2 linked regions of the Homo sapiens genome follow. The protein of the gene in region 2 interacts with the protein of the main gene of each other region in a pairwise test. Each region holds a gene or a part of one and is shown on either strand. Other genes may lie near its edges.

Region 1 (3,877 bases), on a different chromosome or scaffold from region 2:
GCGGAGGTTGCAGTGAGCCGAGATCACGCCACTGCACTCCAGCCTGGGTGACACAGTGACTCCGTCTCAAGAAAACAACAACTGTGTAGCTTTAGGGAATGTCTGAAGTCCCATGATTGTCACCATCAGTGTGTGTCTCACTACAAACTCAAAAAGCTAGGGAGAAGAGAATGAAATAGGGTGCATATAGGGCCAGAGAAGATGTGAAGGGAGAACACCAGAAGTTCCATTCCAGCAAAAGGGCTGCATACGGCCGCTGGATAGATGCCAAGTGATTAATGTCAAGCCATATTAATGTCAGAGAGGAGAATTTGGTGAAAGCTTTGCCTGGCTAGATCTCAGGCTGGAAATCACTAGATTCCTTTATTTTATTTCCCCCTAATCCTTTATAACTTCCTCTAATGCCTTAGTCAAGCTTAAGACCATCAGCCTCCAGGGAGCAAAGTGAAGCCCATCTGTTCAGTCAGGCATTTGCCAGACCAAAGTAAAAGGTCAATCTGGCTTTTCCTATAACAGCATTGAGATGACCCCAAATACTTCCCAACGGTATCAGCCAAAAACAACTTTGCATTACCGTGAATCGTGATTTCAAAGCAGAGATGTCAGGGATATCCTTTAAAACGGATAATGACTGGGCTATTGCTAGTGAGAAAAAGAAAGAAAACAATAGGCATATGTCTCTTTGGAATGTGCTTGCTCTAAAGGCTGTATAAAAATAATCCTAATCATCTTGTTTGGGGAGGAAAATCAATCAAGAATGCCTTTTTTCAAATATTTTATTTCTTTTATTATAAGACATATAGGTAAAAACTTGCATATTTTGAAAAAGATAGAAAATGGTAATAAAATGGATATTTTTCTTATTAAGAAATATGTTCATAAATATGCTTTATCAAATGTTAAAATGGTTATTTTGCAAAATAATAATAAATAGAGCAGAGCTGTGACATACAAGGGTCAACCAAAGTACTGGAAGTTTTTATGCTATATGTTTTATAAAAATTCAGACTTCTGATTATACATTAAAAATTGACATTTTGCACTACAGGGTATCAATAATTCTGATTTTAAAAATATTTTTATGATGGCTCCATGAATTCAAAAATAATAAAACATAAAAGGTGGTTTGACTAAATAGAATCTGATTCAAATAATTTCCCCCTAAATAAGAAATTGTAAGATATAATTTTTGAGCCTATAAGGGACACATGTATCAGTTCCCAATTCTATATGTCTTGGTGGGCATTGAACAAAAATTGTTTGCTAAGCCTTTGTTTCCAGCAAGGTCCACATCATTTCTTTTCACAGTTTGATGGAGCAATAATAGTCACGATTCTGATGAGCCTAGTTCTACAATTCTAGCTCCATGGATCTTAGATTCGTAGAAAGTTTTCCCTCCTTTGAAGAAACTCATTGACAGCTTTCTTATATTTGTTTATGACTCATTGGCCTCAAAGTCACATATCAGAACACTGGGAAAAATTTTTAATGATGAAAAGTTCTTGTTCTAGGCATTCTTTGTAAGCTTTACTTCTCTACTATCCAAAATAGAAGAAACACATGTGAACACCAAACACATCCTCTAAAGAGTCTTGGGTGTTCAAATAGCAAGGTCAGGCTTTTCCTGGAAATAAATACTGACTTTTTACAAAAATCTTTCATTTCCCATGCATCATGTTGCCCACAAGGCTAATACGCTAGCTCCCTGCTACAATGGGGGAAACCACATCTAACTTAAGTATTCAATCTAATATAGATTATTGGTCCCAATGGCCTTCAACAACGGCCATCAAAGGGACATCTGGGTGACCCTGGGTTCCTAGAGTACAGAGAGGTCATGGCAGGATTTGGACTTGAGCTTGAAGGCCATATTCTTGTTGTTTTTGGCCACGATCTTGCCCCAGAAGCGCCTGGCTTTCCTGGGCATGCTCTCCTTCCTTTTCTGGTAGGCCAGCCGCCGTTCATTCTTCTCCTTGCTGTCCCGCCGAAGGCGCACCTGTCGCACAATGCCCTCAAACAGCTCCTTCACGTTGTGCTGGACAGCTGCAGAGGTCTCGATGAACTTGCAGTCAAACACCACTGCACAGGCTCTCCCTTCTGGGAAGGAAAGAAAGAGGTCAGAGGGACTGCAGAGCACAGTCCCACATAGCACACAGTCAAGCTGGATGGTTCTTCGAGGTAACACTAAGTCAGCTGTATATGCAGTGGATAGAGGATGCTGCTGCGGCATGGGCCCTCCCAGGGCATGAATAGAAAATGTCTCACTGGAGGGTCCCTGGAAGTAAGGGAGATGGGCTTTAGATCTGATCCCCCATAAATTCACTGTCTGAAGGTCCCATTTCATCAAATATAGTGATATTAGTTATAACAGTAAAAGCCATACCCTTAATTTACTGCTGACTTACAATGTGCCAAGAACAAGGCTAAGTTCTTTATAAACACTGTTTTCAATGTCCACAACAATCTTGGAAAATACATTATTATCCCTGTCAAATACATGAAGAAACCGAGGGGAGTCTCCTCTGCAGGTGAAGTTCACACAGCCTGTAAGTGGCAGTGAAGCCAGGTCTGCTCAGTTCTCAAGCCCATACTCAACTCTTTCTCCTGACCCAGTTTCCAGAATTGGAAATAAGAATTCTACTGCTTAGCTTTCCTCTCTTTTAAAATAAAAATAAAAATAAAGCAATAATGAGATATCTTGGGAAAAAATTGAGAATTTTACAAATGTGTAATACAGTTAAATTATACAAGCTTTTCTGGGACAGTCTCAATTTCAAGTATTTCATTGCATTCAATGACCATGCATCAAGTTTTGGTTTGGAAAAAAAATGATTACTGTAGACAGTTGTGTCCTAGTAGGAAGACATTCCCAAACTAGTGTGTACATTGTCTTTATCAGGTGTCTTTCCTCCTGAGCAGGGCCCGGCAATGTAGTATTTTAGTTTTATAATTGTACCAGGATCAAATCTGAATTAGGCCAGTAAAATCTCAAGGGCTATAAAAGCACTTGGCTGCCCACTCAGCAGATAGAGATTTTCCCTGAGCTAAGTATGAAGAAGAATATGTGACCCCATCAGACTGATGCCTCAAATGAAATTTCAGAAGCCAGGGATGGGGAGTAGGAGAGTAGGACAGTGTTTCTAGGGCTCACAGGAACCAGAGTCAGCCAGAGTAGAATTCTTTTTCCTCAATGAAACTCTTTCTCACAGTTCCCCTAAATCAGAGTTCCCTATCCTCCTTGCATGAAGATGCTACTTTCATTTCCCTGTACTCTTGGGAATTCCAGGAAACTCCTTAAAAGCGGGAGGATTAGTATCCTGCAGGTAGACCAGATGGACAAGGGAGAACAACTAGTGTGGAGGAGACCCACTGGGACTGTAGGAGTCTGAGAAACACACCTAAAATTTCATATAGCATCTTAATGAGTTCCTAGATCCAGCCTCGTGGAAGGAGGGAAGAACCCGTGTCTGAAGGAAAACACATGTGATCCAGCGATTGTTTCTACAGTATTGGCTCTGCTCCTCTTACCTGATACAGACACTTCTCGGCACCGCACTAAGTCACTTTTGTTGCCAACCAAAATTATGGGAATGTCCTCTGTCTGCCGGGCCCTGCGGAGCTGGATTCGCAGCTCAGATGCCTTCTCGAAGCTCGCTCGGTCTGTGATTGAGTAGACAATCAGGTATGCGTCCCCGACCTGCATGCAGTGGTCATGGAGCCATTCATTTTCCCCCTAATGAAACAATAAGATCTTCTGTGAGTTCAGTTAGGCCTGGGGAATAAAGCATCAGTTTGCAAAGAAACAATATGTGTATCCTAAAGTACACTTGCTGATAGGAAAAATAGGAAAAAGGAAGAAAATCGCTTCCAACTCCCT
Region 2 (7,310 bases):
ACACCGCATGTTCTCACTCATAGATGGGAATTGAACAATGAGAACACATGGACACAGGAAGGGGAACATCACACTCTGGGGACTGTTGTGGGGTGGGGGGAGCGGGGAGGGATAGCATTAGGAGACATACCTAATGCTAAATGACGAGTTAATGGGTGCAGCACACCAGCATGGCACATGTATACATATGTAACAAACCGGCCCATTGTGCACATGTACCCTAAAACTTAAAGTACAATAATAACAAAAAATAAAAAATAATATGATAGCTAAGAATTTTCAAGAACTACAGAAAACCTTAAATTCTGAAGTGGAAAGCATACACCCAGTGCAAAACAGAATAAACAAATAAATCCACAGCTCTATACATCACAGTGTACTGAAATACATCAAGGATAAAGTGAAAATACATAATCATAGTGAAGATTTTAATACCTCTCCATTACAAATGGGTAGATCATGCAGACAAAAAATTTAATATGGAATTGAATTTCAGAGTAAGTAAGATTGGTGTGATAATGACAGATAGAGCCATACATCCAACAAATGAGATTATATATTATTTTAAGCAAGTAGAGAGCATTTACAACAATTGGATAAGTATCAGGACACAAAGGAAATAACAAACATAATAACATAGAGACCTTGTTCACTAGCTATGATGGTTAATTTTATGTATCTACTTCACTGGGTTAAGGGATACGTGAGTAGCTGGTAAACATTATTTCTTGGTGTGTCTGTGAGGATGTTTCCATAAGAGATTAGTATTTGAATCAGCAGATTGAGTAACAAAGACCACCCTCACCAATGTGGGCAGGGATTATACCATCTGTTGAGTGCAAGGATAGAACAAAAGGTCAGATTAAGGGCAAATGTGCTCTCTCTCCTTGAGCTCGGACATCCATCTTTTCCTGCCCTGGGATAACAGAACTGCAGGTTCTCAACCCCTCAGACTCCAAGACTTACACCTGGTTCTCAGGCCTTTGTACTCAGATTGAATTACATCACCAAGCTTCCCTGGTTCTGCAGCTTGCAGACAGCTTGCAGGCAGCATATCATGGGACTGCAAAGCCGTCATCAAGTGAGCCAATCCCCATAATAAATTCCCTATTAAATAACTATATAGTATATCCTATTGGTTCTGTTTTTCTGGAGAACCCTAATACATGACCCCAATGCAATTCATTAAAATACCACAATAAAAGATAATATATATGTATATGTGTAGGTATGTATGTGTATAGGTAGGGGGGAGAGTATGAGTATGGGAGAGTGTTACACACACGTAAATCTTATGCATCTTGGAATTAAAACAAATCCTAGATAGTTCATAAGCTAAAGTAGAAATCATAATAAAAATTATAAAATATTTAGAGCCAAATGATTTTAAAACATTATCAATAGCTTTGAGATGCCAGTTAAACAGCAACTGGAAGCAAATCAAGTGCCTTAAAGGCAGATATTACAATGAGAAAAAATATTGCAAATTGCAGAGAAGTGGTAAATACAAAATTCAGGATACCGATTGGCCAAAAAGAAGAAGGAAAAAGGGATTTTATTAGGCAGAGATTTACAGGATGCTTCACCTGGATGGGTACACAGGTGTTCATTAAATGTTACTCTATAACTTCCTATATGTCTGAAATATTTCAAAATAAATGTTTTAAAAATAAGTGAAAAAAAGTAGTTGACTCATAAAGCTAAAATCTCTCTACAAATACAAATAAAAGATCCTAAATAAAAAATTAGCCAACCAAATCCAGCAAAATAGAGTAAAAACTGTACATCCTGACTTAAAAGAACTTATTACAGGAATAGGAATAGTTCAACATCAAAAAGTGTCATTTTTTTACAGACTATGAAAGCATTATTATATAATAATTTCACTGGATTAAAAAAAAACATCCCAAATAACTCAACATTCAGGATTTTTTAAAATTAGAATAGAAGGGAACTGCACTAACTCAATAAATGAAAACCCTACAGCCAATATTCTATTAGGTTCAACTACATTTGAAATGGCTGAGGTTTTTTTAAGCCAAAAAAATGGCCCATTATCAGCGATTTCATAGGATTTGGTCTAATGATGGTGAGACTTCAGAAGCATAATTTAAAATTAGAAAAAACGACAAAGATACCTACTTTGTTATCCCTAACATTAAACACTATACTAGAAATTCTAGCCATCAACATAAAGACAAGGCAAACAAAACAAAACAAAACAAAACAAAGGATTGTACTGCAAAAGTCAAAACTGTCTATTTTCAAACAACGTCATTTTCCACATAAAAAATACAACTATTGAAATAATGTTATTTCATGTTATTTAATGTTGCATCCAAAATTAAAATATAAAATGTGCAACAAAGATATATACAAGAATGCTCATAGGAGCACAATTTGTAATATCCCCAAACTAGAAACAATGAGAATGTCCATCAACAATAGGAAGAATAAATAGTGTTATATTCATTTAAGAAGGGAAAAAAGGGCTATTGCCTCATAAACCACAAGGATAAACTCCCACAAATTGGTTAGACATAAAAGAATTCAGACCATACAAAATAGACAGATCATAGATAGATATAGCTAGATTTCAAAACTTCAAAATATATTGTAAGAGAAGTCAAGATGTGGTTACCTTTGGGAGAGGAACAGGGGTAGGTGAAGTGGCGGGAGGGAGACAGCCCAATGGAGCAATCTGGGGTTCTGATAATATTCTAATTATTGGTGATTATACATTTACGATTTGTGTACTTTATGAATATATGCTATAGTTCCATAAAAAACTTAATTTAAAAAATCAATAACGCAATAAATATATACAAGTTTGTCAAGTAAAATAATCATTTTAAAAATCAATAGCATTCTTTGTTTACCAGAAACGAAAAAATTAGAAAATGAAAAACATGCAGTACTAAAAAGAGCAAAAACAAAGTAAAATATAAACTTCAACTAGACGATCTTTGAAAATTCCATTACACATAACCAATAAAGGTTTAGTATCCAAAATATATTTAACAAGAAGAAGAAAACAAGAATACACTTTTAAAGGACAAAGGATATTGGTAGTCACAGAAAAGGAAACCTCTAGGATCCAAGATTGGAGTTAAGCAGCCACAATCCAAGGAATGCCTGGAACCATCAAAAACTAGAAGAGGCAGGAAAGATTCTCCCCTAAAGCTTTTGAAAGGAGCACCGTTCTGCTGACACTTTTATTTTGTACTCTGGCCTCCAGAAATGTGAGGGAATAAATTTCTGTTGTTTTAAGCAACTACGTTTGTGATAATTTGTTATGACAGTCCTAGGAAACTAACCGGATACCCTGAGACTCAATAGTTCCATTTCTAGATCTACTCCCTAGAGCACTGGGTCACCATTCTATAAGACCCAAAATCATCCTTTTACAGAAAATATTTTCAACTTACCTATACATATAACTAAACAATAAACCAATATCCTAATTAAAGTTTGAAAAAATACAGAAATACTTTATAAGAAAATACATATTTCTAACATGTAAATGCTTGGGCAAGACTACACTGGAAGATATATTTGCACCTATACACAGAATCTATGTGAAATGGGCAGTTTCAAACGTGAGATGATAAACATCCCACACTAGCAACTCAAACACCACAAGCAGCATTGCCTCTGGTGCCATGATTTTCCAAAAAAAGTAAACTCTTAGCAGAGCACCAAACCCAACAAAGTGTACTCTTTCCTCAATTTACATGGCAATTGCATTACTGTAAAATGCGTTTTAAAAACCTTTTAAAAAGACTTTGTGTTTATAAATAAACAGATAATTGATTATCAACTGCTATTATGTTATTAACCTCCAGTAATTATAAACAGGTTTTTCATCTACATATTCAATGAGACATTCAAGTCATGCAGGATACCGAACAATTAATACCACAGGACTCCCCAACCACTGTGACAAACAAAAGTAGTCTAGTCAATTTGTAAAATGCTCCCTAGGGCACACAATACACCCCTGAGAACAACAGACACAATGATACTAGGAAATATGTGCAAATATATTCATTGAAACATTGTTTTGAATAATAAAAAGCATTAACTACTAGTATTTAATAAAAAGTCCATTAAGAGAGGAACAAAAATTATATCACTGTTAATATAAACATATACCATTTTATACTAATGAAGGAAATGAACTAGACCTGCAAGAATCAACACTGAAAAATCTCAAAAACAGTGAATCAGAAAAAGCAGGTTGCAGAAGGATACATACAAGTAAGATACTATTTGTGCAAAATTTAAAAACAAAACTACAGCATAGGTTATACACAGACATACACAAATACTTAGTAATAAGTACAAAAATCTGAACAAACAATACACTACAACTTCAGGATATTAGTTATTTTAAGGAAGGTAGGGAGGAAAAAGTGGTCAGGAAGAGGTAAAAGGTACAGAGGAGGCCTCACCTACATGCAACATTATATTTCTTAAAAACAAAAATCTGCAGCAAACATGTAAAATTTATCATTTGTTAAATGGGGGGTGGGGCATCAAAGGATTCAGTTTTTTTTTTCTATAAATTTGAACTATTTTATAGTTAAAATTTTTTAAAGTCTATATTCCAGCGAAATTTACCACCAACTGTGGCTTAACTGTGACTGAGACACTACCTACAGTAACCTGGATAAGGATCACAAAGATAAATATTCAGATGAGTAGTGACTGAAAGAAGCCAGATCTGTCTGCCACAGTGCTATCATTAGTTTCAGTTAGGTAATGAGATGAAGTGAGAATTACATGCAATCCCAAATTGACACTATTACTTTACCTCCAATATCTTCCATTTTCCCAAATAAGCTCATAAAAATTGAAATATTAAATATAAAAAGAAGGTAAAGAGATAAAGCAGCAATAATACTTCTTCCCATCAAAGACAAAAGTTTTAAAGATTTAAAATGTAAGTGATGGAAAATATAATTCTTTTGATGCTCTTTAAAAACAAGTTACTTAGCATACTATGTCATTCTCCAAAGACTCATTGAGAAAAGTCACTTTCCTCTTAGCAATATATTTTCTCTCATGTCATATGGCTCTGTTGGGCAACATAAAATGTTGTGTGACACATCCAAACCTTTCTATGTTTTTACTTTCATATTACTAAAGTATTACACAGATGAGATTACCACTAACACAAAACTTCAGCAAAAAGTAAGCATGGAAGGGGTAGAGAAGAATGAGATTGCAACTTTCAACAGGCAATCAAAGATAACACCTAGTTTCCAGTTTATAGTAATTGGGAAAAAACTGAATGTCACCACAAAAAGAAGAAAAAATCAGGCAATAATACAACATGAACTATTCTGTAACCGAGCCAAGTATGTTCAAAAGGTAATGTCCACAAAAAGATTTTTACAAGAATGAATATTCATAATAGTATTATCCAATAATAACCATAACCTGGCAACAACCCAAACAACCATCAACAAGAGAATGGATAGCATCAGAGTAAAAAGCTTCTACACAGCAAAGGAAACCACTAACAGTAAACATACAGAATGGAGAAAATCTGATAAGCGGTTAATATCCAAAATATGTAAGGACCCAAACTCAATAGCAAGAAAACAAAAAACCTAATTTTAAAAATGGGCAAGAGGTCTGACTAGATATCTCAAATGGCCAACAGGTGTATGAAAAGGTGCTTACCATCTCTAATCATCAGGGAAATGCAAATCAAAAATATAATAAGATATGCCCTCGCACATGTTAGAACGACTACTATAATAAATTCAAAAAATTGTAAGTGTTGGAAAGAATGTGGAGAAAGGGGAACCCTTGTACACCGTTGGTAGAAATGTAAATTAGAAGAGCCATTACAAAAAGCATATTTCCTCAAATAATTTAAAAAAAGAAAAATTTCCTCAAATAATTAAAAAATAGAACTACCATATAATCCAGCAATCTCACTTCTGGGTATGTATCCAAAGGAAATTAGTATATGGAAGAGATCTGCACTCTCATATTCATTGCTGCATTATTCACCATACTCATGATATGGAAGCAACCTAAGTGTCCATCAACGAATGAATGGATAAAGAAAATGTGGTAGGTGTGTGTGTGAGGGGGTGTGTGTGTACACTATTCCGATTTCTATCACTATGGATTACTTTGCCAGTACTTAAACTTCACATTGGAGCCACATAGTATGTGATATTTAGTATCTGACTTCTTTTGCTCAGCATGTTCTTGAGATTCATCCATGTTGTTGGTTCTATCAGTAGTACCTTTGAATTGTGGAGTAGTATTCTATTGTATGTGTATACTACAATATATTTATCCATTCTTTTTTGTCAAAACTTACATATATTTACACTGTACAAAGTGATGTTTTGCTACAGGTATGTACACTGTGAAATGATTAATTCAAGCTAATTAACATTTCCATCATCTCCTATACTTATTTCTCTCTGGAAAGCAGTTCTGTCTGGAATGGACCTGAAAGGGGAACAAGGGAATTGCGAGGGGTGATGGAAGTGTTCCAAATCTTGATCTGGGTGATGGTGACATGAGTGTATGAATTGACCAAAACCAACTGAGGAAAAAAAAGGAACATTGTGGGAATAAAAAAAAAATAGAACTGCTCTATATTAAAATGAACTACAAAGACCTATCAATCAAATGATTAAAGGTAATATATAAACCTTGACTGGATCCCGGTTTGAAAAAGTTAACTATGGAACTCATGTTTGGGACAACCAGAAAAACTTGAATATGAACTAAATATTAAGAATTTCTCACCAATTATCTTAGGTGTAATAATGGTGTTGGGGTTATACAGAACAATCTCCTTATTTTTTAATTTTATTTACGTATGTATTTATTTAAGAGACAGGGTCTCACTGTGTTGCCCAGGCTGGAGTGCAGGGCTACTCACAGGTGTGCTCACAGCATACTACAGCTTCAAACTCCTGGGCTCAGGTAATCCTCCTGCCTCAGTCCCCTGAGTAGCTGGAACTACAGGTGCCTGTCATCATACCCAGCTAATATCCTTATTTTTAGAAGACACATGCTGAAGTACTTACAGGTGGAGTATCATTATGTCAATTTATTTTCAATTTTTAGCAAAAAAATAAAAAATTTATACATAAACATACACATACATATAGACAAATCAAATTAATGTACATGGTCATGGGTTACAGTTATTCATTGAACTATTCTTCTAAGTACTCTGTATGTTTGAAAAATTTCATTTAAAAAGTTGGGGAGAAAGATGCCAGTTTTAATAGATACAGAGTGATCTCCAGGACATACTGAACGAAGAA

The links.
Region 1: the proteins of SPATA6 (region 2) and GEM interact in binary tests that used the Homo sapiens proteins (3 or more experiments, as listed by UniProt).

The regions. Positions count from the first base shown.
Region 1 is NC_000008.11:94,248,491-94,252,367, forward strand, and holds the end of GEM (GTP-binding protein GEM), read right to left. Parts: intron 3,734-3,877; coding exon 3,529-3,733; intron 2,276-3,528; coding exon of another isoform or gene 2,262-2,275; exon of another isoform or gene 2,098-2,261; coding exon 1,820-2,097; 3' UTR 763-1,819; downstream 1-762. UniProt on the Homo sapiens protein: Could be a regulatory protein, possibly participating in receptor-mediated signal transduction at the plasma membrane. Has guanine nucleotide-binding activity but undetectable intrinsic GTPase activity.
Region 2 is NC_000001.11:48,462,106-48,469,415, forward strand, and holds part of SPATA6 (spermatogenesis-associated protein 6 isoform 1 precursor), read right to left. Parts: intron 1-7,310. UniProt on the Homo sapiens protein: Required for formation of the sperm connecting piece during spermiogenesis. Sperm connecting piece is essential for linking the developing flagellum to the head during late spermiogenesis.